Linked DNA regions of Homo sapiens. The protein of the gene in region 6 purifies or fractionates together with the protein of the main gene of each other region. This does not show direct contact. Each region holds a gene or a part of one and is shown on either strand. Other genes may lie near its edges. The genes, in order: SGSH, NUP155, TMEM33, ACP1, FKBP1A, EPB41 and LRPPRC.

The links.
Region 1: the proteins of EPB41 (region 6) and SGSH fractionate together in Homo sapiens (co-fractionation; one large-scale study listed by BioGRID). This does not show direct contact.
Region 2: the proteins of EPB41 (region 6) and NUP155 purify together in Homo sapiens (co-immunoprecipitation; one large-scale study listed by IntAct). This does not show direct contact.
Region 3: the proteins of EPB41 (region 6) and TMEM33 purify together in Homo sapiens (co-immunoprecipitation; one large-scale study listed by IntAct). This does not show direct contact.
Region 4: the proteins of EPB41 (region 6) and ACP1 purify together in Homo sapiens (co-immunoprecipitation; one large-scale study listed by IntAct). This does not show direct contact.
Region 5: the proteins of EPB41 (region 6) and FKBP1A purify together in Homo sapiens (co-immunoprecipitation; one large-scale study listed by IntAct). This does not show direct contact.
Region 7: the proteins of EPB41 (region 6) and LRPPRC purify together in Homo sapiens (co-immunoprecipitation; one large-scale study listed by IntAct). This does not show direct contact.

What each region holds. Positions count from the first base shown.
Region 1 is NC_000017.11:80,210,334-80,213,833, reverse strand, and holds part of SGSH (N-sulphoglucosamine sulphohydrolase isoform 1 precursor), read left to right. Parts: coding exon 1-30; intron 31-1,559; coding exon 1,560-1,763; exon of another isoform or gene 1,764-1,910; coding exon of another isoform or gene 1,911-1,965; intron 1,966-2,646; coding exon of another isoform or gene 2,647-2,786; exon of another isoform or gene 2,787-2,822; coding exon 2,823-3,382; 3' UTR 3,383-3,500. UniProt on the Homo sapiens protein: Catalyzes a step in lysosomal heparan sulfate degradation.
Region 2 is NC_000005.10:37,361,107-37,364,606, forward strand, and holds part of NUP155 (nuclear pore complex protein Nup155), read right to left. Parts: intron 3,279-3,500; coding exon 3,141-3,278; intron 2,879-3,140; coding exon 2,782-2,878; intron 1-2,781.
Region 3 is NC_000004.12:41,948,929-41,952,428, reverse strand, and holds part of TMEM33 (transmembrane protein 33), read right to left. Parts: intron 3,128-3,500; coding exon 3,044-3,127; intron 1-3,043. UniProt on the Homo sapiens protein: Acts as a regulator of the tubular endoplasmic reticulum (ER) network by modulating intracellular calcium homeostasis. Mechanistically, stimulates PKD2 calcium-dependent activity. Suppresses the RTN3/4-induced formation of the ER tubules.
Region 4 is NC_000002.12:274,947-278,783, reverse strand, and holds the end of ACP1 (low molecular weight phosphotyrosine protein phosphatase), read right to left. Parts: intron 3,645-3,837; coding exon 3,583-3,644; intron 1,805-3,582; coding exon 1,699-1,804; intron 1,558-1,698; coding exon 1,480-1,557; 3' UTR 501-1,479; downstream 1-500. UniProt on the Homo sapiens protein: Acts on tyrosine phosphorylated proteins, low-MW aryl phosphates and natural and synthetic acyl phosphates with differences in substrate specificity between isoform 1 and isoform 2.
Region 5 is NC_000020.11:1,386,555-1,390,054, forward strand, and holds part of FKBP1A (peptidyl-prolyl cis-trans isomerase FKBP1A), read right to left. Parts: intron 1-3,500. UniProt on the Homo sapiens protein: Keeps in an inactive conformation TGFBR1, the TGF-beta type I serine/threonine kinase receptor, preventing TGF-beta receptor activation in absence of ligand.
Region 6 is NC_000001.11:28,917,569-28,921,068, reverse strand, and holds part of EPB41 (protein 4.1), read right to left. Parts: intron 1-3,500. UniProt on the Homo sapiens protein: Protein 4.1 is a major structural element of the erythrocyte membrane skeleton. It plays a key role in regulating membrane physical properties of mechanical stability and deformability by stabilizing spectrin-actin interaction. Recruits DLG1 to membranes.
Region 7 is NC_000002.12:43,947,490-43,950,989, forward strand, and holds part of LRPPRC (leucine-rich PPR motif-containing protein, mitochondrial precursor), read right to left. Parts: intron 3,112-3,500; coding exon 3,084-3,111; intron 2,171-3,083; coding exon 2,113-2,170; intron 1,030-2,112; coding exon 923-1,029; intron 711-922; coding exon 633-710; intron 287-632; coding exon 242-286; intron 1-241. UniProt on the Homo sapiens protein: May play a role in RNA metabolism in both nuclei and mitochondria. In the nucleus binds to HNRPA1-associated poly(A) mRNAs and is part of nmRNP complexes at late stages of mRNA maturation which are possibly associated with nuclear mRNA export.

The DNA.
Region 1 (3,500 bases), on a different chromosome or scaffold from region 6:
AGTACACCACCGTCGGCCGCATGGACCAAGGTGGGCTTGCAGAACCGGGCACTGGAGGGGGTGCCACGGCCGGGGTCCCCCATCCTGGGCCAGCGCCCTCTTAGGTCACGGCATAATGTGGGTGAGGGTCCCAGTGTGGCAGGCCCTGTGCTGCAGCTGGCAGAGCCCACATTGAGAGGAGGGGCCTGTGGGTGGCATCAGGACCCAACCCCGGGGCTGCCCTGATGTGGACCTGCTCCTGGGCTGGGGCCTTCGGGTGCCCCAGAGGTTGCGTGAAGACTTCAGATATTTCCAGTCACAGGACCTGGGTCAGATTTGGGGGTTTGGAGTTCCTTAGCATATGCAGATGGAGATCTTGAGGTCTGTGAGTTTTTTGTGGTTGATGGCTTACAGCAACCAAAATTTGTACTCCCACAGTTCAGGAGGCCAGAAGTTTGAAATCAAGGTGTCAGCAGGGCCATGCTCCCCTGAAGGCCTAGGGGAGACCCTGCCTTTCCTCTTCCAACTTCTGGGGGCTGTGCCAGTGCTGGGCGTTCCTGGGCTGGCGGCAGAATCGCCCCCATCCCCGCTGAAGCCTTCACATGGCCTTTTTTCCTGTGTCTCCTCTTTGTGTCTCCACTTCTTCTTTTTTTTTTTTTTTGAGACTGAGTCTTGCTCTGTCACCCACGCGGGAGTGCAGTGGCGCAATCTCGGCTCACTACAACCACCACCTCCCAGGTTCGAGCGATTTTTCTGTCTCAGCCTCCAAAGTAGCTAGGACTGCAATCGCACCGCACGCCACCATGCCCAGCTAATTTTTATATTTTTAGTAGAGACGGGGTTTCACCACATTGGCCAGGCTGGTCTTGAACTCCTGACCTCGTGATCCGCCCACCTCAGCCTCCCAAAGTGCTGGGATTACAGGTGTGAGGCACCGCGCCCGGCCTGTTTCCGCTTCTTATAAGGACCCCGTCGGGTTTAGGGCCTACCTGAGCACTTCAGGATGATTTTGTCCCAAGATCTTTATTCGTGAAGTTCCCCTTTCCAAACAAGAACCCCTTCACAGATTCCAGCACACATGTCTTTTGGGGTCAGGGACGACAGGAGGTCAGGACCTTTGCCATTTCCCTATTGGTGCCATTAATTCTTAGTGAGCTGGGAAGGAGCGGGTATAGAGGAAGCCTTGTCCTCTGGCCCCAGCTGGGAAGGAGCGAGTATAGAGGAAGCCTCGTCCTCTGGCCCCTGCCCTATTTGCTCCATGGGACAGACACGAGATTCCGGAGAACTCAAAAGCCGGCGGGCACCAGGGAGCAGCTGCCTGGGGGTGACACAGAAGTGCCAAGGGATGGCTGGAGTCCCTGGAGGCCCATTCGAGGCCTGCTCAGGGAATGGGAGCTGGGCGGAGCTGGGCAAGAGCTGGGCAAGAGCCAGGGCCATTGGGAAGAACTACAGGGTGCTTTCGAATCCGGAAAGCGCTGGAGCCCAGCGGCCGGATGCAGCAGCAGGTGGGTCTACACACACCACCCGCTGCCTCCCTCCGTGTCTGCGGCTGAGCTCTGCTTCTCGGCCCCTCACCACAGGAGTTGGACTGGTGCTCCAGGAGCTGCGTGACGCCGGTGTCCTGAACGACACACTGGTGATCTTCACGTCCGACAACGGGATCCCCTTCCCCAGCGGCAGGACCAACCTGTACTGGCCGGGCACTGCTGAACCCTTACTGGTGTCATCCCCGGAGCACCCAAAACGCTGGGGCCAAGTCAGCGAGGCCTACGTGAGCCTCCTAGGTATGCCTTTGTCTGTCTCCGTCAGGAAAGGTGTGGGAGTGGATCTGGGACGGGGCCATGACCTGTCAGATGCTGCTCCACACCCATTACCTAATGTGGCTCTCATATCATCTGGGTGAGGAAGGGACTGTCACTCCCACTCTACAGAGGAAAAGAATGAGGCTCAGAGAGGTGAAGTAAGCTGCTCAGGATTGCACAGCTGGTAAGCACTAAGCTAGGATTCTCGCCTGGATCCTGCTGCTTTCAAAACCATTGCCTTTTCCCCGCCTACCTCCGATGAGCTTCAGAATCACCTGGGATGCTTGTTAATATCCAAATTGCAAATCCCAGGGTGTCCGATTCAGTAGATCTTGGCGGGCTCAAGAATTTGCATGTCTGACAAGTTCCCAGGTGATGCCGATACTGTGGGCCTGGGGACCCCTCTCTGAGCATCCGTGCACCCCATCCTGCCTTCCTGGGGGACCCAAAGCACCTCATGACCCTGCTCATTCCTAAAAAGACCTAGGACATCTAGTCCCATGTTATGGATGTGCAGACAAAGACACGGGTGCAGGAAGACTTTGTGAGGGGCTCGGGGTGACCCCTTCGGCACAGGGCAGAGGCTCGTGTGTCCTGCCCACTGCCTGGCAGAGCCTCCAGGTGGGGTGGGCCCGGGACAGCAGGAAACTCAGGTTCCCTTTCCCTCCGAGCTCGCGGCCCACATCTCTCTTGGGGCCCACATCTCTCTCTGGCCCCAAATGATGAGCCAGGAGCACTGTGGCCACACCCACCACAGGGGCTGGAGTACACGAGCTACCAAAAAGGAGACTTCTTTTCCAGTCCATGGGATTTTAGAAGGATCCTAAATGTCACCGAATCAGGGCCTCTTGTTATACCATTCAAGGCACTGAGGCCCAGAGAGATGACGTGGCGGTGAGAGGTGTCGGCTCGACAAGGCACCTCCCGCTGCTGATTGGATTGGAGAAGGGAGCCGCCCAGAGTGGCGTAGGTTCGGCCCTTCCGAGGGCAGCTCCTGTGTGCTGAGGGCTCTGCTGCTCTGAGATGCCGCGTCCCTTCCAGACCTCACGCCCACCATCTTGGATTGGTTCTCGATCCCGTACCCCAGCTACGCCATCTTTGGCTCGAAGACCATCCACCTCACTGGCCGGTCCCTCCTGCCGGCGCTGGAGGCCGAGCCCCTCTGGGCCACCGTCTTTGGCAGCCAGAGCCACCACGAGGTCACCATGTCCTACCCCATGCGCTCCGTGCAGCACCGGCACTTCCGCCTCGTGCACAACCTCAACTTCAAGATGCCCTTTCCCATCGACCAGGACTTCTACGTCTCACCCACCTTCCAGGACCTCCTGAACCGCACCACAGCTGGTCAGCCCACGGGCTGGTACAAGGACCTCCGTCATTACTACTACCGGGCGCGCTGGGAGCTCTACGACCGGAGCCGGGACCCCCACGAGACCCAGAACCTGGCCACCGACCCGCGCTTTGCTCAGCTTCTGGAGATGCTTCGGGACCAGCTGGCCAAGTGGCAGTGGGAGACCCACGACCCCTGGGTGTGCGCCCCCGACGGCGTCCTGGAGGAGAAGCTCTCTCCCCAGTGCCAGCCCCTCCACAATGAGCTGTGACCATCCCAGGAGGCCTGTGCACACATCCCAGGCATGTCCCAGACACATCCCACACGTGTCCGTGTGGCCGGCCAGCCTGGGGAGTAGTGGCAACAGCCCTTCCGTCCACACTCCCATC
Region 2 (3,500 bases), on a different chromosome or scaffold from region 6:
AACAATACAAAAATTAGCCAGGTGTGGTGGCCCATACCTGTAGTCCCAGCTACTCCAGAGGCTGAGGCAAGAAGTGCTTGAACCCAGGAGGTGGAGGTTGCAGTGAACCAAGATAGTCCACTGCACTCCAGCCTGGGCGACAGAGCGAGACTCTGTCTCAAAAAAAAAAAAAAAAAAAAGACAATGGCTGAACAGAAAAGGAGAGAGAGAGAGAGAAATAAAGATAACAGCTGAAAAAAATTCTAAAAATAATAGAAGACATCAAACTAAAGATCTAAGAAGCTCAGAGAACAAGAAGCAGAAAAAATACCACGAAAAAATATGATCTAGACTTTCAAGAAAGCTTCCAGTCATCCTGAAAAGGCCATCCACACAGGAACAAAATAGCTAAATGGCAACTTATGCGGACTAGGATTCCCCATCCTCTTACATCATGCCATTCCACAGGGCCCTTTGATAACTGGCACAGCCTCTTGGAACTACGATCCAATGCTGAGATATTTGGGGGTTAGAGAACAATGAAATGACCAAGATTACATTTTTATCATCCAGGTGGAATTAGGATTTATAATAGAAAGCCAATTGAATATTTAAACTAAGTATAAATTTTACAAAATTGAATTTGTGGACCTTGTGCCTTGATTTTTTAAAATAAGTACATTCTTCAAATAATTTTTCTTTAAATGAACACACACTGCTATGGATCAAATATCTGTGTCCTCCTAAAATTCATATTAAATCCTAACTCTTAATGTGATAGTATTTGTAGGTGGGGTCTTTGAAAGGTTATTAGGTCATGAGGGTATATCTCATGAATGGGATTAGTGCCCTTATAAAAGAGGACCCAAAGAACTCCCCTACCCCTCTGCCATGTGAGGACAGAGTGAAAAGATAGCCATCTATGAACATTGAAGTGGGCTTTCACCAGACCTTGATCTTGGACTTCCAGCTTCCAGAACCATGAGAAAGAAATTCATGTTGATCACAGGCTATGGTATTCTGTTTTAGCAGCTCGGACTAAGACACACAGTAAGGTAGGACTGTTTGTTCCATGAGGGCAGAACTACATTCATCTCATTCAGTACTGTTCCTACCACAACAACAGTGTCAGATACATAAGATCAATATGTATGTGTTAAATAAATATGTTGGATGTTAATGGAAATGTAAAAAATTTCATTAGTGTTTTTTTTTTTTTGAGATGGAGTTTTCCCTCTTGTTGCCCAGGCTGGAGTGCAATGGCGCGATCTCGGCTCACCACAACCTCCGCCTCCCAGGTTCAAGTGATTCTCCTGCCTCAGCCTCCCGAGTAGCTGCGATTACAGGCATGTGCCACCATGCCAGGCTAATTTTGTATTTTTAGTAGAGATGGGCTTTCTCCATGTTGGTCAGGCTGGTCTCGAACTCCCGACTGCAGGTGATCTGCCTGCCTTGGCCTCCTAAAGTGCTGGGATTACAGGCATGAGCCACCATGCCCAGCCGAAAACATATTTTAAAGAAAACAATTATTCTCACATTTATCTGTTCTGTAATATTTTTGCAATGACTTCTCTTGAAAAGATACATACCTAAACAAAAAAGGTTTCATTATTTAGTATAAAAATGAATATGTTATGGTAACATAACAAAGTGGGGAACATTCAGGGTACATGAAAAATAATCACAATCATACATCACTGCTATTACAACTATTACATTTCAACATGAAAAATTGCTACGAAACTTCTAGTAGAAAAAAATGGTTTCGTTTAAGCTATAGGTGTTAAGCTGTCATTTAGTTTCAATTTTGTTTCAATAATACAGTGTTTTGTTGTTGTTGTTTCTGAGATGGAGTCTCGCTCTGTCACTCAGGCTGGAGTGCAGTGGCACTATCTCAGCTCACTGCAACCTCCATCTCCCAGGTTCAAGCAATTCTCCTGCCTCAGCTCCCGAGTGGCTGGGACTACAGGCATGTGCCACCACACTTGGCTAATTTTTGTATTTTTAGTAGAGACAGGGTTTCTCCATGTTGGCCAGGCTGGTCTCGGACTCCTGACCTCAGGTGATCCACCCACCTCAGCCTCCCAAAGTGCTGGGATTATAGGCGTTTGAGTCAGCGTGCTCGGCCGATACAGTGTCTTTTTAATGCACGTGTGTTCCTAAAAAGATCATTAATTACTCAGGAACAAGAGTAACATCTTAATTATATGGGCTTTCCTATGTTTATCCCACACCTCATCTAAGGATAATGTAATGGACAACTGGAAGTAAAACAAAATCTATCTCTAAAAAGTCAACAGGGAGATCACCAGACCAACATGCTGTATTTAAGCAAAAGTACCTTAGGCTTTCACTCAGAATCATTTCTATACATATAATTTACACACGGGTCAAATTCACAAAATGACAACAAAATAAATAAATATCACATGCCTACTCCATAGAAATGCAAGGAAAACAGAAGTCTTTAAAAATGTCCAATCATCTCTCAATGAATTGCCAACATCTATTTTTACTACGGGCTAACAGCTTGGGACCCGGGCTCCTGCCACTCAAGAATGGCACCTAAACCAGCAGCAGCAGTTGGCAGCTTGTTAGAAATGCAGACTCTTGAGCCTCACTCAGGACTACTAAGACAGAATGCACATTTGAACATCTCCAGATGACTGATACTGAGAAGCACTGACCCAAAGGCTAGATGAATGAAAGATAAACCAAGCAGCTTCTAATGAGAACACTAGCTACAGTAAAGTTTATATAAATTCCAATCACCCTTAAAGCAAACCAGCCTTAAATACATACCCATCCTCATAGTTCCACATGAATATATCACTGTCAATTGTGAGCCAAGCTCTGCTGATAGGAGGGAACACACCCATCATGCAATTACACTGCATATCTGAGGTAGTGTGGATGTAAGGCAGACAGAGGTGAATCTTATTCTTCTTTAACTTGTTTCAATAGCTTTTGACTTAATATTTACGTAAAAAATCACAATGTGTCCACTCTTTAATACAACATGGAACCCATATACTTAAACGAATTTTAAATAAAACCCTTAAATGAATATATAACACATTAATTAAACATAGAACAAGAATTATAAGAATGAAAAATACCAATTTTAACATTTTTAAAATAAATACAAAGTAATAGGATACGTCCAAACTGCTCAACAAGTTCAGGTGGGAGAGGAACTCTTCGGATGGAACTGATCTCTGGAAGGTTGGGTACGGACAGCAAACCAGGTCCTTGCAAAGGATAATCCATATCTGACATGCCAGAAACGGTGGGATTATCTACAAAAAGAAAATGAAGTATTTATAATAATGTACTGCTCATCAACCGGGCAAACAAAAGGATTGAGTGCCACAAAAAAATTGTTGTGTGTTGGTTCCAAAGGTACAGAGAGAATATTCTAGTTTTGACCCAACACAAAGTAGTCCTGAAATATTCCCTTGTGAAGGTAGGAACAGTTACTGGTTTCAGGCCTAAAGGGAAAGTCATATCTCAAAAAACTT
Region 3 (3,500 bases), on a different chromosome or scaffold from region 6:
ACAATTTTCACCTTATGTGCTGACTCATCCTGTATAAAGATGCAACTACTATTCTACCTTTTTGTGTCCTGTTTTACTTCTATGGTTAGAAAAAAAGCAACAAATCTACTTTTCTAAACAAGTATTTAATATGCTTGCACAGAAAGACAGGAATAATAATATTTGGAGTAATGCATAATTTTCCAAAACCTGCCCTTCCTGTATCTCCTGTCTTCGTGAGAGCACCATTACAACTCTTAGGCTTCCAAGCCAGAAACCTGTGGGTCTTTAATTTACTCTTTTCTCTCAAGCCCTAATATCCTATCTCCTAATACCTTTCATATTTGTCCCCTTTTCCTTTTACCACTGGATTAATTCAGGCTCTAGACTACTCTAATAGTCTCCAAATTGATATTTTTCTTCTCTTGCTGAGCTTGCAATCCATTTTCTGGAATATTTCTAAATCAGATTTCATCATGGGGGTTCCCAGCCTCTCTATGTTACAATCTTCAAAGGCTCTCCTTACCTCAAAATAAAATCCAAACCCTTTCATGATCTAGTCCTTTCTACCATCTACCTTTGTGGACACAGATATTTATCAATTCTCTATATACTTCCTGAGCTCAAGTATGCTAAGCACTTTTCAGGCACCCATGTGTCAGAACTCAGGCTCATTCTTTAAAAGACTTGGCTTATGTTCCCACCTCCTCAGTGAATTCTTATTTGTCTCTGTCTGTTCTCTATGCTTTCAGAGCACCTTCATCATCACACTGACTTACATAGCTGTCTAATTTATTCAGCAGTGAGTACCTCTGAAAGAAGATATTTTAATTCCACATAAGTTCATCAACATACAATCACTGTTTTAACCAATCAGTCAAATGAATAAAGCTAGAAGACATGAGGACTAATGAAGTCAATCGCTTTCACTAAAGTCACATAGTTCTTTTATTACTGGCTGCATCGCTGGCACAGACCAAGTCAGAGTTCCTTAACAGCACGGACAACAGAACTTTGAACAATGATAAAATTTTTGCATATCTGTGCTGAAGGACCAGTCAGAGAGTTCCTTAATAGCACTGACAACAGAACTTTGAGTAATGACAAAATTTTTGCATATGTGTGCTGACCCACAGTTGCCATCAGCAACACATGGCTTTTGAGTACCCACCTGAACTGTGCTCAAAAGGAACCAAGTTCTAAGTTTTATGAATTTTATTTAAAGGTCAAATGTGGTTGCTGTGCTGTACTGGACAGCACAGCTATAGACAATCTGCACTAGAGATCCAAAAACAACTGAAACCACCAACTTGAGAATAAATATCGTAGGTGAAAATGGTACAAATTGTGAATAGAGATGGTCTCAAAACCTTTAATTAAAAAAAGTGTAGTACTGAAAATGTAGTTTTATAGCCTGTTTATCAATATTTACAAGCTGAAATATTTTCCATTACCTTTCCACTGGTTTGGTTAAAATGGGTGCTTATAAGACAGCTTTGAAGATGTTTACCAGCACATATTTGTGTTATCTTGATTCACTGCTATCCTTTCCTTTTCAGTCCACTGAAAACTGAATTCTAGATGTACTAATATGATTTAAGGGTATGTGAAGAAAATGGGAATGGAGAAGGAGGCACAAAGAAGCACAGAAAAACAAATATGCTGATTAAAATAACAGATGTCAGGGCAAGAGAATATAAGATAATGTCTGAAATGAATATAGGGACCAGAAAGAAAAAAGGCTAAAACTCAAGAAATCAAGTAAAAATGAATGTTAATTTGCTACTAGAGACTCACTAAGAACGAATGTCTAAAATAAGTTCTATTTTAGAAAGTATTATAAAAAAGACATTGTCTAATAGAGCATAAAAACGCTCTGAACAGAAAATCAGATCATAGAATAATGAAAATGAACTAGTAAGAACATAACAGTCTAAGTACTTTTAAAATATTACTTCGCTTCACCCCCAGAAGGAGTTATTTCCTCTACCAATGAAGAAATCCAAATAAATAACCTGCCTAGTCACACAACTAGTTAATGATGGGCCAGCATTCAAATTCAAGTTCTTTTTACTGTACTTATGAAAATATACAGATTGCTGTAATGCACTCATTGGATTTCTAGCTGAATTCTACATTATTTTAAACTTAAAAATAGATTATCTTAATATTAGTATTTGAGTATCATTTTAGTTTTACTCCAATGCTTGAGATCAGAATGCATAATTTAGTGTATATTAATTTAAGCCTCCATTCCTGAAAACTACAGTAATTCCCTAAAATTTCTCTGCTTCCCCATTTTTCTGCTTCAAACTCTTCTGGCACAAGGGTATCAGAAGAATATTCTGACGATGTCAAAACCATCATTCCCATTCACCTAAAAGATAAATTCCAAACTTCTTACCCTAAAACTCAAGAAGTTTTATAATATAGCTCCAATATACCTTTCTAATCTTAGCTCCAGCAATTAGCCATTCAGAATCTCCATTAGAGTCAAAACAGCTCTACATAAAGTTCCTCAAATATGGCTTGTGCTTCTCGTCTCTCTTGCCCCACCTAAAATGCTTTTCCCTATTCAAAAGCTTTACTCCTCCCACAATCTCAATTTTGTGAAACCTTCCTGGGCTCATCTATCTTCTGGCCCAATGATCTCTCCCTTCTGTGGACTGCAGTACTGATATAATAAAGCAAACATATGGCATTCATTATCTATTGGCTTGTGAATTCTGTATCCTAACCATTGTTTATCTAATTGACACGTGTTTTGTTTCTTCAACTAGGAAAGTTGAGAGTGGAATCTATGTCTTATACATTTTAAAATTTGCTAAGTTTTAGCAGTGCTTTAGAGGTGGCGTAGATAACTGCAGTCTCAGTTTCTAAGAACAAATACAACCACTTCCTCACCAACCCCAGTACATTCTAAGGCCTAGAACTTAAATTTACAAAAACACTGCTTGCTTCTAAAGTCTAACACATTAGCTAAGTAACTCTTAAGAATTGCGAATACTATATATTCACAATACTCTCAACAAATAAAACATGCCTAAAATAATCATCAGCTTACCGACAATATGGGTTTCTTCGAGACGAATATCGAAGGGTAAGAAATCTATAGTATATAAAAGGTTGGAGCAAACTTCCTTGACCACTGAAATAAACAAATACAAGCGTGATAAATATACATTTCAATTCATGTGTATACTCTCAAAACTTAAAAGCAATTCAACTGGAGAATATGTGTATCTTCATTCATCAAATGGTCATAGTGAAATCTATCATGTCTAAATCCAAGTTATCCTTAAAAAAGGATATAAAAGAATGTACATGATTGGTAAAGAGTAAAATGTTGTTTAATTTTTTTATAAATGTATTCTTATCTGTATTACTTTTGAAATTTTTTAAAATACTAAATAAATCAGAAAATGTTAAATAATTCCGTAATTACTAATTGATGAAATCAAGTTGTAAAGCTTCATAAAATATGCAAATGAAAAGTGACTTATTTTATATATATAAAAAGA
Region 4 (3,837 bases), on a different chromosome or scaffold from region 6:
GTCTGAGTAATTCCAACAAGAGCAAGACTCACTGGGTTTGCAAACTTTCTTCCTATGAAGACAGCCTGGCACTTCCACATGGTACAGTGGGGAAACTACTCACTTTCATCTGGCAACAGCTTATCCTCCAGATACTAGGGAGTCAAGGATCAAACGTGTCTCCTCCCCATGGCACTGCCTGGGACCCTCATGATACTGAGGTCAGGAGTGCAGATGTCCTGGCCAGGCAGCTGTGCATCACTGCACAGGAGGGCACAGCGTAGAGGCAACATGTCCAGAGGATGGTACTGGGCAAGGACAGTTCCAGCTGTAGAACCTCAAACTTCCTTCAGAAACTAGACATGATGACATGGGGCAGCAATGTGCTTATTTTCATCATTTTACTTCCTTATCCTGAAGATAAAATATGCACACCTAACATCACAGATCATGTAAAAAGGACAATACAATGTTTTCAAATGCTTCCTTACCTGTCAATAAAAAAACAGGCAGACACCAGATTTATATCTCTAGTTGTATTTTTATAACTCCCCAGTTTATTTTGAAATATTCATGATTTTGACATTATCTCAAAATACACAGAAATTACCTTACATCTGCCTATACATTTATTAAATGCTGATGAAGAATACTTATTCAATATTTAAGCATGCCAAATAATAACACTTTTCCCAACTTTTAAAATTATTTTAAAAAATAAGCCAATTTATATTGGACATTTGGGTTACATGTGCATATAAAAACAGTCATATTCCTCAACTGACCATAGACTAGCATACAAGTGTCCTTCTTTCTGGATGTAATTAAGTTTCAGAGGCAAAGTGGTTCAGATGGGAGCCAATGGGCTGACCTCCTCATGAAGTAAACTCGACAAAAATCATGAAGTATTGAAGGTGCCAACGACTGATTCCATAAATGTTTCTCTCTTCCCTATCTTTTCAATATACAAGTGTGCACTATGGGTGTGTAGAAATTAAAACACTTCTAATCTAGACTGTGAGCTCCTACGGAGGGGACTACTGTCAATCCACAAAAGGCCCTAGGGAAGAGAGAGGTAGCACTGGGGAGCAGAGGGCACCTGCCCTCCAGGCCATCCACACAAACCTACTGAAGAGGTAGACTCGATTATCTAAGTCTCAACAGGCTTAGATGTTGACCTGGGCCTTCAAGTGAGGTTTTCCTTCATTGTTTTATGTTGCTTGTTCTACTATTTTTGTAACTGGGGCAAAGTGAGATGTTCAACTAGTCTAAGAATGCTTAAAATACCCCATAAGCTGTCTGAATCAAAGATTTTTATTGATTCTCCTGCCAAACACAACTGATTTCCATCTACAATTACTTTTTAAGGTAAGAAACAGTAAGTCAACTGAACAAAGAGCTGGGCTTTGGGCCCTGGAACGTGATTACACACCGACTGAGAAATGCAGGACCTCAGGGTGGGGTCTAGTCAGGCTGGCCGCAGCAGGGCACGAACCTGCCTCAGTGGGCCTTCTCCAAGAACGCTCTGCAGCACCTGACACACTGCTGGTACACCGTCTCAAAGTCAGAGTCATTCCCCTAAATGGACAGGAAAAAGAAGAAAATGGCAAAACCTGCATAACAAAAACATCCTTAACACAATCTCATCTGTTATTTAATATGGCAGGATACAAATGTGTTGGGTCTTCATATTAGCCCTAAAACGTGAACTGTACTTACATAATAGGGATCTTCAATAATAAGTTGTTTTTGTGGATCATAGCTCCCAAGTAGTTCAATTTTAGCTTTGCAGGTTTTAACTTGATTACTTTTTCTATTCAAATCTCTGTAAAATTGAAATATGAACTTAGTTTTCTGATCTATGGTTTCAAGTTAAACAGGGACATCTGCTAGGGTGTTCTGAAACATCCATATCAAAATCAAGACAGAATGACCTAATTTGAAATGAAACGGAACACTCAGCAGGCCCGTGTGGCCCCTTCTGCAGCTGTATGCCACTGCCCTCTCTCTAGGCAAGACAGTTTGCGACAGCAGCTTATTCTCACTGATTCTGTTACACAAAATATACAATAATTATATTTTCTCCCACAAAATACATTTTAAGACAATCAAGTTTCAGAGATAAAGGTCATAGAAAGGAACCCAAAACACCATCTGAACCAGTCCCAAAACAGAGGGCTACCAATTCCATCCTCAGGTGTCTTGACACAGCACTTCCCACAGCACGACCCACTCCTTAATTACTCTTCCATCTTTTATTCCTTAAGCCTCTGCCCAAGCTGAAAACTCAGCTTCACTCTAGACTTCCACCCTTAGCTTTCACATTGCTACAAAAGAAAAAGGCAAACTTAACTAAGCGCCTCCATTTATTTAACAAATTTCGACTGAGCACCTGCGACAGATGAGTTGATGAGTCAGGTACGTGCTTTATGTGGGAACGGAACAGCCAAGAGCTCCCATGCACGAAGTTTTACAGCTCAGGATTAGGTGCAGGAATGAGAACTGCAGGCAGGCCTAAGTCTAATGCACAATCTGGCCTAATGACAGGGCAGCAGAATACCTCTATCAAGAAATGAATTTAAGCTGACCCACGAGGGGCAAATAGGAGCCGAATGACCCAAGAAGCAAGGAGGAGCTTCCAGGCAGAGGAACAGCACGTGCAAATGTGAGGCTGCAGGAACTCCACTTGCCCCACACGCAAAGAAACACGGTGCTCAGTGCCAGTCAAAGCAAATGGGGTCTCCTAAAAAGGTGTTTTTACGATGCCTATGGGCTATGGTGTCAGCAAAAACAATGAGAACAGAATAAGGACTGAAAAATAAAAATTAAAAAATACATGCATTTTAATGAAGGTCCTAATTAATAAAAAATAATTGAAACTGGTGCATCCCTATCTGTTCATTTGTACAAAAGTAATTAAAAGCACAAATAGTTTATCTTCATCAAAAACATGAGATATTTATGAATAAGTAGTGATGCAAGTCAGAATCCTGGAGTGACATTAAATTATGATCCGTTCCCGATGACGCCTTGAACATGGGACTGGGGCAGGTCAGGAGGGTGGTGACTGAGGCAGGGGTGCATACAGCAGGGCCCTTCCTCACTGAGCCTAGGCTTAAATCCCATGACATCCACCACATGCTAGCTGTGTGAACTCGGGGACATAACCTAACATTACCGTTTCTCACTTCCTTCTTTTACAAGATGGGATAATAATAGGAACCTATGGTTGCAGAGCTTTGACCTGAGAATCAATAAAACACTGCCCTGCCCAGGAATCATTACAGCAAAAATATCAAAATCGTTCTCATGCAGAACAATATGCTTGATACAAAACTATAACAGCCAAGCTAGTTTTCCAATTAAATCATGCTATTAACAACTAGACTTTCCCTTTTCTAAGGTGTATTTCCTTGTAAATACCTAAGAGACAATTCTAGATTACTAAGTTTTTTGCTGTTCTAAATAAAATAATTCTACATATGGTGACCATCACTGACTATTAAAACCTTTAAAATAGAAAAAGTAAATCTGGACAACAAATTACTTGGCCCACTGCTGAACTGAGAGTTGAACAGAAATATTCTTCAAAAACAGGATTACCTCAGATTGCTTTCATCCATACATAGTATATAATCAAATGTGGCAAAATCTTCTTTGGTAATCTAAAATTGAATAAGAAGTCAAAACACAGTGTTTATACCATTCAAGCCTAGAGGATGCAAAGCAATACTAAAAGAAAAAAAAAACTGCTGTATTTGAGCCTGTTACTCACTAATAAACAATTAAATAATTTTTAGGGTACTTTTAAGTTAAAATAGAGTTAACCTATTTCTCAAAATTGTACTGCAAAGAAAT
Region 5 (3,500 bases), on a different chromosome or scaffold from region 6:
TGCATTGTTGCAGAATTAGAAGCATGCATGTATGCATCCAAAGTGTTACTTAAGCTGTGCTATAAAGAAAAGAGCCTGTCATGCAGTGGGGAGTGGGGGCAGTGTGGTGGCACCTAAGCAAAGGGGCAGAGACCTCCATGTGGGAAAAGGCTTGGAGCATTCGAGGAATGAATGCAGGCCAAGGTGGCTTGAGCTCCTGGGAGAGGAAGAGCAAATGTAACAGAAAGAGACAGTAGCATCTAAGAACTGGTTATTTCTACCTCCCCGACTTTCTGCACTGCTAGAATACACCTGGTCAAAATCAAAGGGGTCCAGGGGAGGGAATGCAGAGACTTGGTTAAGCTTTTTAGCAGGAAAAGAAAACAAAAAAACAGAAGAAAAAATAGAAGTAAAAATAAACAAATGTCACCATGAGCACCAAAGGGAGAACTGAATGCTATGTGATTAAGTTATTCATAACCTTGGCTTCTTCCATGGGAAACAGCAGGTGACAATATTTTTAGAGAAAATTCCAAGGCAGACAAATGATTTCCAGTTTATGGATACAATAAACCCCTCAGTAATTCATAAAAATCAGTTTAAGCCTAAAAATGTTCTAGTTAAAACATCTATGAGTAAATAGGTGAATTTATGGTATGTAAATTATATTCAATAAAGCTGTTACCAAGAAAAAAAAAGGTCATGGACCCCACTGAAAGGAACCAGAGCTCTTTGAAAGATGGCTGATAATTGGACCAGAGTAGTGAAACCGAGAAATGGATGAAGGAATGGTGGGAGCCTGTCAAAAAGGTACTGGAGCCAGCTTAAAGGGCTCCTACTGGCCAAATTTAGGATGATATTAGCATCAAAAAGAATAATGGGTATCATTGATCTTAAGGCCCTGACAAAAAATTTCAGCCCACAGTACAGTCAAAGCAAATAGAGGGGGAAAAAGTCACTTGCCCCCACTGGGAATGGCAATACCCCATCAGTTAACATTCATTTTTCATTTTAAAAATTGGTAATTAAAGGCTGGGCACGGTGGCTCATGCCTGTACTACCAGCACTTTGGGAGGCTAAGGAGGGTGGATCACTTGAGGCCAGGAGTTTGAGACTAGCCTGGGAAACCTGGCGAAACCCGTCTCTACAAAAAATACAAAAATTAGGACAGGTGGCATGCACCTGTATGCCCAACTATTCAGAAGGCCGGATGGGAGGCCGGGATGGGAGTCTGGGAGGTCGAGGCTACAGTGAGCCATGATCAAGCCACTGCACTCCAGCCTGAGTGACAGAGACACTGTCTCAAAAAATAAAAATAAAATTTGGTATTTAAAGGTAAAGAATTACTTTACCTTATCTTATAGAAGGATAACAGCTAATAAATTTAGAAAGAATGAAGGAATTTTAAAAATCAACACTTTGTGAATGCCAGTGACTTCTTCAGGGGAGAATGATCAGATGGTGTAAACACCACTAGGTGAAAGGCTGATGAGCAAGAGACCATCTATGGCTACCTAAGCACTCCACAGATCACTGCTAAATGCAAAGGGAAAAATGTACCTTTACAGAAAAGATCAAATTTAGCATCACAACTAGTGATGTTTCCCATGTGTGCTGAGGATGAAGTACTCACACTAAAATGTTTAAACGGAATCTATTCAGACACTTAAAAGATTAAACATCCGGTTCAGAAAATCAAGGCAGGGAACAAGTTAAACAATACCATGAGAAAACAGTAAGACAGATGTGGAGTATTCTATAACTAGCCTGCTCTCTTTGAAGAAATCAGAGTTATTAAGAAAAAAACAGCGTAAGGACTCTTCTAGACTGAGATTACAGACATAACAACTGCGATGAGTGAGGCTCAATGGAACTGTGGTTTTAAAAAAGAGCAACACTTTGGAGACAACTGGGTAGTCTCGATAGGCATTTGCTTCACAGCAGGCATCGTTACTCCCATTTTATAGACAGCATGTGGAAGCTGGGAACTGTGGGACAATTTGTTCAAGCTCTCATAGCCCGTTGTATGGCAGGGTCAAGATCAGAACACAGCGAAGAACCCACATGCTCTTTGGGGATCACTGTCCACCTGGCACCACTTCTGCCCACTGCCTGAGCTGGCACTCCACACACCTGGGATACAACCAGTGTCCTGTTTCTGCCTTTGCCCCCAAAAGCCCATTGTCCACACAGTAGCCAGAAGGAGCGTGGGTTGGGGGGGCGGGGGCGGGCATTAAAAGCCAAGCCAGCCAGTGGCTCTCACCTGAGTTAGAAAAAGGCAACGTTTTTATAAAAACCAACGAGGCTCCACCATCCCCTCATCTCCTGCCACATACCCTTTCACACAATCCACTTCCTGTTCCTCTAACGCACCGGTCTTCTTACTGTTCCTCTAATGCACCGAGCAGGCTCCAGCCTCAGGGTCCTGCACTAGCTCTTCCCTCTGCCTGGATACTCTAGACAGCCCTGTAGCTCCCTCTCCAATGTCCTTTGAGTGAATGTTAAAATGCCATTTTTTTCAGAGGCCTTTTCCAATCACCCTCACGAAAAGCAGCCAACTTCCCTTCCCATCCCTCACTCTGCTTTAATCTCTCCAGCGCTTCTTACTACCTGATGTGCTCCATGGCCATACTATCAGTCTCCTCATCATAAGCAAAGCCCCACCAGATCAGGTCTTTGTCTATTTAGTTCACTAGCCATGTCCCTAGAGCCTGGCTTGCTGCTGTTGCTCAAAAAACATCTGCTGTGGGAAGGCAAAGGGACTTGTTGCAGCCCTGCCCAACAGTTACAGCCTGTGTGCCTCAAGACAGCACACGTCAGGGGAAGCCATCTGAGGCATCTCTGCTGAGGGTGAGCCTCCCTCCAGACATCAGATCACCAACCAAGAGATACCTAGCAAGGGAGTGGATGGAATAAAGCAGAGGAGAGGGGGGAACAAAGCTAAGGAAAAGCAAGGGGCTTGAGGGAGGCTGCAGCAAAGTGGCCACACCTGTCCCGGGAGCCTCAGCAGCCTTCCCAGTCAACCTCCTGAGGACATGAGGTTGAGGGGCTCCTGGTTTTTCTCAGTCAGAAACCGGGAGGCTATACCTGACTTAAACCTGATCCCAAGGACAAAATGTCCAGTTAGTTACTTTTTAAGAAGAAAAAAGAAAACATTCCTTCAATCCCCTTGGGGCTGCTCTCACAATGGCAGGCACACGGCCTGCTGAAGTAAGTAAAAGAGGTCTAAACCTAGCTGTGTGCCAGGACAAGCTAACAGTAAAGATGACGAAGCTACTGGAGGCAGCAGGGAGGCGCCATGAGAATTCCCTGGCTCCTAAAGGCACTTACTTGGCAGCTTACCTTTCCACCACCTCCCTCCCACCTCAATGCCTGTCATGCTCCTAGGAGATGCTTAGCTGGTGATAGTGAACTTTGTATTTTCCCTCTGGTACCACAGAGGTAGTGCAGGCATTCCTTTGAGGCCTTGCTCATGCTGTGCTCTGCCAGAAGGTCACGGAAGTCACCAGAGGGACCCTTGA
Region 6 (3,500 bases):
AGCTAGATGTGATGGCACACACCTGTAGTCCCAGCTATTTAGGTGGCTGAGACAGGAGGATCACTTGAGCCCAGGGGTTCAACACCAACCTCAGCAACATAGAGAGACTCCCCATATAAATTTTTAAAAATTAAAATAGGCTGGGCGCCATGGCTCACACCTGTAATCCCAGCACTTTGGGAGGCCAAGGCAGGCAGATTTCTTGAGCCTAGGAGTTCAAGACCAGCCTGGTCAAGATGGCAAAACCCAGTCTCTAAAAATATAAAAAATCAGCCAGGTGTGGAGCCTGTAGCTCCAGCTACTCAGGAGGCTGAGGTGGGAAGATCACCTGAGCCTGGGAAGTTGAGGCTGTAATGAGCCATGATCGCACCACTGCACTCCAGCCTGGGTGACAGGAGTAAGACCCTGTCTCAAAAAATAAATAAATAAATAAATAAAAATAAAATAATCCTGTGCTCTAATATAGTTAAATCACGGGGAGTTTCTCACTTGAAACTTTTCTATCATAACTTTTTTATGATTTAATGCAGATATAACAAATATAATGCATGGGCAAAAGTTTTCTGAGTGAATATTAATGTAGAAAGTACCAAAACCTCAGTCTATGTTGTGTCCGGTGCTATGATTCAAACATATAGAGGGCCTACCAAAAGCTGATCTGCATTAGGGTGACTTTTGTGGAGGATGGAATCAGGTTGCATCTATAAATAACAATTAACTACAAGAGTACAGATTATATCCAATCTTATTTGATTATTTCCACCTATTTCCAAAAAAAGATGGAGGTGTTCCTGTCTCTATTAATAGATATTAGATAACAGAACAGAATTGTAGATATACATTGAATATAGAATTAGGTAATAGAAAATAATCTTAATAGAGCATCTATTGCTTCTTCCAATCTAATCAATATAAACTCACAGTCATATTTCTTATCCATTCCATCAGACAGATAATCTTGCCCCTTCCTACCCACCCTGCCAAAATTTCTTTAACCTTACCCAAGCTCTATTCCACATAGCTTAGAAACAATTTTAATCTCCACAAGCAGAGATCACCCTGAGAGTTGAGGGCCTAGATTAATTGGGTAGAACTGACTCAAAGAGTCATCAGCTACGGAAGAGGGAGAGCAGCAATTCAATAAACAATCACAGTTTAATCCACATAGATTTAACTTGGAGATAAGAGATAACTTGCAAAAAAGAGAACTGCTCTTAATTGCAATAATAAAATAATAAAAATAATAAAACAATAAATAATTTAAAAGCATGACGCCAGAATGTCTCTGGAATTTCTATATAGAAAGGACTTTTGGGCTGGATGCTGTGGCTCATGCCTGTAATCTCAGCACTCTCAGAGGCCAAGGCAGATGGATCACTTGAGATCAGGAGTTCAAGACCAGCCTGGCCAACATGGTGAAACCCCGTTTCTACCAAAGAATACAAAAATTAGCCGTGCATGCCTGTAGTCCCAGCTACTCAGGAGGCTGAGGCGGAAGAATCGCTTGAACCCGGGAGGCAGAGGTTGCAGTGAGCCGAGATCATGCCACTGCATTCCAGCCTAGGCAACAGAGCAAGACCCTGCCTCAAAAAAAAAAAAGAAAGAAAGGACTTTTAAGGATAGCAATTTGACTGGAAGGAGAGACAGAATATTTGGATATCAAGCTCCCAGTTCCTACCCAGATTGCATGTTTACTTAGGGTGACTTAGTGGGAAGCTGACGAAGCTAGCGGGTAGGGGATATTAAAGTCTCTTCAAGCTACTCCTTGAATTATACTGGCTGCTGTTCTCCAAAGTTCAAAGAGCTAGCCAATTTATTTTCAAATATTTTAAGTGGATACAATTCAATTTAAATAAAAAATCAGCAAAATAAGTATAAACAGACTTTCATCATAATCGGATTTTCCCAAAACCAATATTTGAAGCAAAGTGTCAGTAAGGTGGGTAGTTCTAAATGAGATCAGCACTCAATATAAAATATCAAAGTTCTCCTTTCTAACACCTCCAAGTTCTGAATACTCCTCACTGCTACAGCATTCTTCTTTATCTTTCTATGTATTCATTAAATAGCAGCAGAGTAAATCAAAATACTAATCTAACCCAGTGTGCACTCCAGAGTAAGTTATATTGCATTTGACTAAACACACCATGAACCCACTCTTAAAAAGGACGCACAGTAAAAGCCACCAGTGACATACCAAGAAACTTAAATGAACAACAAAAAATAACATACATTTGGCATCTGCCTCTCCTCTCCTCTAACTAAATGCTATGATAAATGCAATCAAGCAATTACTTTTTCTTTTTTCTCTTTGAGACAGAATTTCACTCTGTTGCCCAGGCTGGAATGCAGTGGTCTCAAACTCAAAGGCTCAAGTGATCCGTGGGCCTCGGCCTCCCAAAGTGCTGGGATTACAAGCATAAACCACTGCACCTAGCTAGCAATTACTTTTCAATAATTTTGGATCCTTCACATACATAAGGCCCATAACTGATTAATTCAGAGGCCATCTTTGGGGGCTTTATTTAGAGGAAAAAAACAAAGTTATTCATAAGAAAAGTTATTGGAATTATTGTTGTTTAGCTCACAAAATAAAGTGATTCCATGTTCAAGTAATTAAAGAAAAAATTCAAATATAGAGGTAGCAATGAATCCACATCTGAATATGCATTTAACCAAACACAAACTTGATGAAACTCAGAAAAATACAGGCCATTGGCTGGGTGTGGTGGTTCATGCCTGTAATCCCAGCACTTTGGGAGGCGGACGTGGGCAGATCACGAGGTCAAGAGATTGGAGACCATCCTGGCCAACATGGTGAAACCTCGTCTCTACTAAAAATACAAAAATTTAGCTGGGTGTGGTGGTGTGTGCCTGTAGTCCCAGCTACTCAGGAGGCTGAGACAGAAAAGACAAGAAAAACAAAAATACACTGGCAACACTTATGCTGTCCTGCCTCTTAGATAACAAGGAAACAGACTGTGGTCTACATCTATGCTCCTCTTGATTTCAGAACCAAACTCAGCCTCTCATGGCCACTGATATTCTAAAGTTATGAAATCAGATTAGCAATATGAAACTGGATTACTACATTAAAAAAAAGTAAGCAAACTCTATCATTCACACCAACAATTACACACCAGGCATGGTGGCTCATGTCTGTAATACAGACTAAGCTGGGCACAGTGACTCATGTCTGTAATCCCAGCACTTTTGGAAGCAGAGGTGAGACGATCATTTGAGCTCAGGAGTTTGAGACCAGCAGTTTGAGACCAGCCTGGGAAACAATAGCAGGACCCCGTGTTTTAAAAACGAAAAAAAAAAGCTGGGCATGGTGGTGCACGTCTGTAGTCCCAGCTGCTCAGGAGGCTCAGGTGGGAGAATCACTTGAACCCAGGAGTTCAAGGCGGCAGTGAGCCAGGATCATGCCACTGCCCTCCAGCTTGGGCAACAAGGTAAGATCCCTGTCTCTAAAAACATATGTATACAGGGCCAGGCAC
Region 7 (3,500 bases), on a different chromosome or scaffold from region 6:
CAGGGATATTAATTGGGGAATCCATGGATGGACTCCAGGGATTTACAAACCTTCTGAGATTATATGCAAATTTCTTAGATATGTTGATTTTTCTGAGGTGGGGAACAGGTTTTACCAACTTCTTAGAGGTATACAAGATGATAAAAATGTGAGGAATCACTGGTTTTATAAGTACACAATCCAGAATACTCATTAAATATGGGTATTATAGCATGTAGAATCTAGTCAAAATCCTACTTACTTTTTGAAAGTCTAAATTCTTACTCTCAACCAACAAGTGAGCATCCTAAAATTGAAATTTAAATTAGCCCAGAATTAGAAAACACACGTAAAAATACATCAGCAAACATCAAAAGCAAATTTGTAAGTCTCACCTCATATTACTACTTTTCATCTTTCCAAAATTTTAGACATTCTCTTCATACTTTATTAATCAATGTAATTAACGTTATAAATATATTTATGAATATATAAATAGTATTTATGAACAATCAATGAAAAGCTTCGTTTTAATGGCTGTCATTGAAACAAATTTTTTTTCTGACCAAAAGCATCATATTTAAATAAAATTTTAACATGCTGTTATATGTAAGTTAAGCATTTTATCCAGTTGATTGCTATTTCACACACACCTTAATCAATTCAGGAACATGGTAGCTTTCCAGGAGATTACGAATGCCTCTGTAGATATTTTCAGGAATTTTTACATTCTGTGAGAAGGGAAGGGAGGGGGGAAAAAACCTGAGTTTTAGACAACCAAACTGAAATTTGTCTAACAGAAATTATCTCAGACATAATTTAAGTCTCCAACTCTTGCATGTCATTGAGAAGTGGTCTGGTTGTACTTAAAAGCAGCAATTTCAAATCTAATAGATACATGTCAGGCAGGACAGGCATTATATAGCAAAAAACGAAATGGTACCATCTTCTCCAGCTGATGGAAGTATTGTCTCAAATGCTCCTCCTTGGCCTGTACCTCTGAGTCACTCATGCTGTCAATCAAGTTATAAAGAAAATAGCCAACAGCTTCTGTGGAAAAAAACAAGAGAAAGCATTCCACTAAAATTACCGAGACTGTCATGTTATCAAGATTAATTTATAAGAAATCATTTTGGTGTGAGATGTCACCCTGATGAGAGGCTCTGAAATGGCAACAATGATCACTGAGGCATAGAGATTATGTGGTTTGGGAGCACATATCTAACTGGTGAGTGAAAGGAATATTAATTATTTTCAGACCGAGTGACAGCTTTTCAGTACTGAATCTTACTTCAATCTATTTTTTTTCCACCACTCTGTGACAGAAGTGGTCCTGCCCAAGGCCTTACCCCTTTCCTGTCCAAATCACACGTAATAAGAATAAATAAATGTCTTGTACACATTTCTATACTGTTTTTTTTTTGTGGACAATATTTAGGGAAGCACATAAAATTAGAAAGGATTGTTAAATGTTGAGTAAAGAAAGTTAAACAATTTTAATAAGCAGATACAGTAATCCTGTGGAGAGCTGCCTATTAGCCAATGAAAAACCAAGATTAACAAAGATGTTTTGTAACAACAGTAATTTTCCTTTGCATTCAAGCATAAAATGTATAGGGCCATGTTACAGTAATACCTAGGATAGAAATGTAAACTTTCAAGAGGGGTACCATCTTACAGAAAACTATATAGTCTAGCTTCATTATATGAAAAATGAAAATCATTAAATGTCAAAACAATGTATTTGGGGCAATAAATTACATTTAAGCGGAAATCCACAAGAACCTTCGCTACATTTTATGTTTAAAATTAACTACACCTGCAAAACATTAAAAGCACATAAATACTAAGAATCACTGATTTTTAAGCCTATTTCCATAGATGTTAGAAGAAACATTTCCCCAATATCTGAAAAGAAAAAGCCTCCCAACCCTGTCTTTAGAAAAAATAATTGTAACAAAATCAAACACTTTAGATCTCAAAATGTTGTAATCAATATAAAGATTTATAACCAAATGTTTTCAAATTCCACTTTAAAAAATAAAGTATTTACTGCTGTAATCCTCCTAACCCATCATTACACAGAAAAATGGATTTGTGGATAAGTTACAATCATCGAAATTGAAACGCTACCCGTCGGTCCTCGAGGCTCCTGGCAATAACGTCCATCCTTGTACAACAATTCTGTTATCTGGTAAGACAGAAAATTCGTGCATTGCAGCAAGAGAAGCAAACAAGAACAAACACAATCTGAAATTGAATTCTTGAAATAATAAAACCTCTCCCCAGTAAGGTACTATTCTATTTCACAGTAATTCAAAACCACCCCCACCCGCCAAGGAGATTGTTTTGTTTTTAAATAATAGGTTTGTCTTTTAAAAACAAAAACAAATCCATGTTGAAGGAAAACTGCAATGTTTTGTGAAATGTCACACAGAAAGACTCTAAACTGATTTATAAATTGATATATAAACATCACTCTGAATGAACTGTTATAAATAGAAAAGAGCTTATAGGAATTATTGACCAATATTATTCCTCATTATATTGCTTTTGGTCTTGTTGACACTGAACTGGTTTCCTCATTTTATATTAAGTTTTACTGAAATATAAAGTAAAATATCCTGAACTGCTAAATAACTTACATTTTTTAGATATTTAATAACAACTTCCATTCATCTTAATGAGACTAAAACAAAAGGGGTCTAAAGATTAAAGTGTCTATTCTCATGGATTCTTTTTTTTTTAATTTCCAACTTTTATTTTAAGTTCAGGGGTACATGTGCAGGATGTGCAGGTTTGTTACATCGGTAAACGTGTGCCATGGTGGTCGGCTGCACAGATCATCCCATCACCCAGGTATTAAGCCCAGCATCCATTAGCTATTCTTCCTGATCCTCTCCCTCCTCCCATTGGATTCTTATCAATTGGATTCACAAACACTAAAAGACACACATAACTATTATTTTTCAACATTAACTCTGCCAGCAAAATTTTAGTAGAAAACCAAATATAGGTTTCATGATAAAAATTATTACATAACCTATGGTATTGGCTTGTAACGTTAAAAGCACCTTATGATTTGCAATATTAGAGGGACTTACCTCGCTCCAAAGATTTATATTCATAGACCTGCAGAGGGCAGCAAAGGATCGAAAATAAACCCAGGTTTATTTTCAAGTATATGCATACTTGTAATATGTACAGATCAAAGTATTAAAATTAATAAGTAAATAAATGTTTGCTGTATCAGGATGAATTTTCAGGACAAAGGTAATTTAGAAAGGCTGACACTCACCCACCTCAAATATTCAAAATAGGCCAGGCCTGGTGGCTCACATCTGCAATCCCAGCACTTTGGGAGGCCAAGGCAGGTGGATCACCTGAGGTCAGGAGTTTGAGACCAGCCTGGCCAACATGGTGAAATCCCGTCTCCACTAGAAGTAGAAAAATTAGCCGGGAGTGTTGGTGTATGCCTGTAATCCAGGCTACTCGGGAGGCTGAGGCAGGAGAATTGCCTG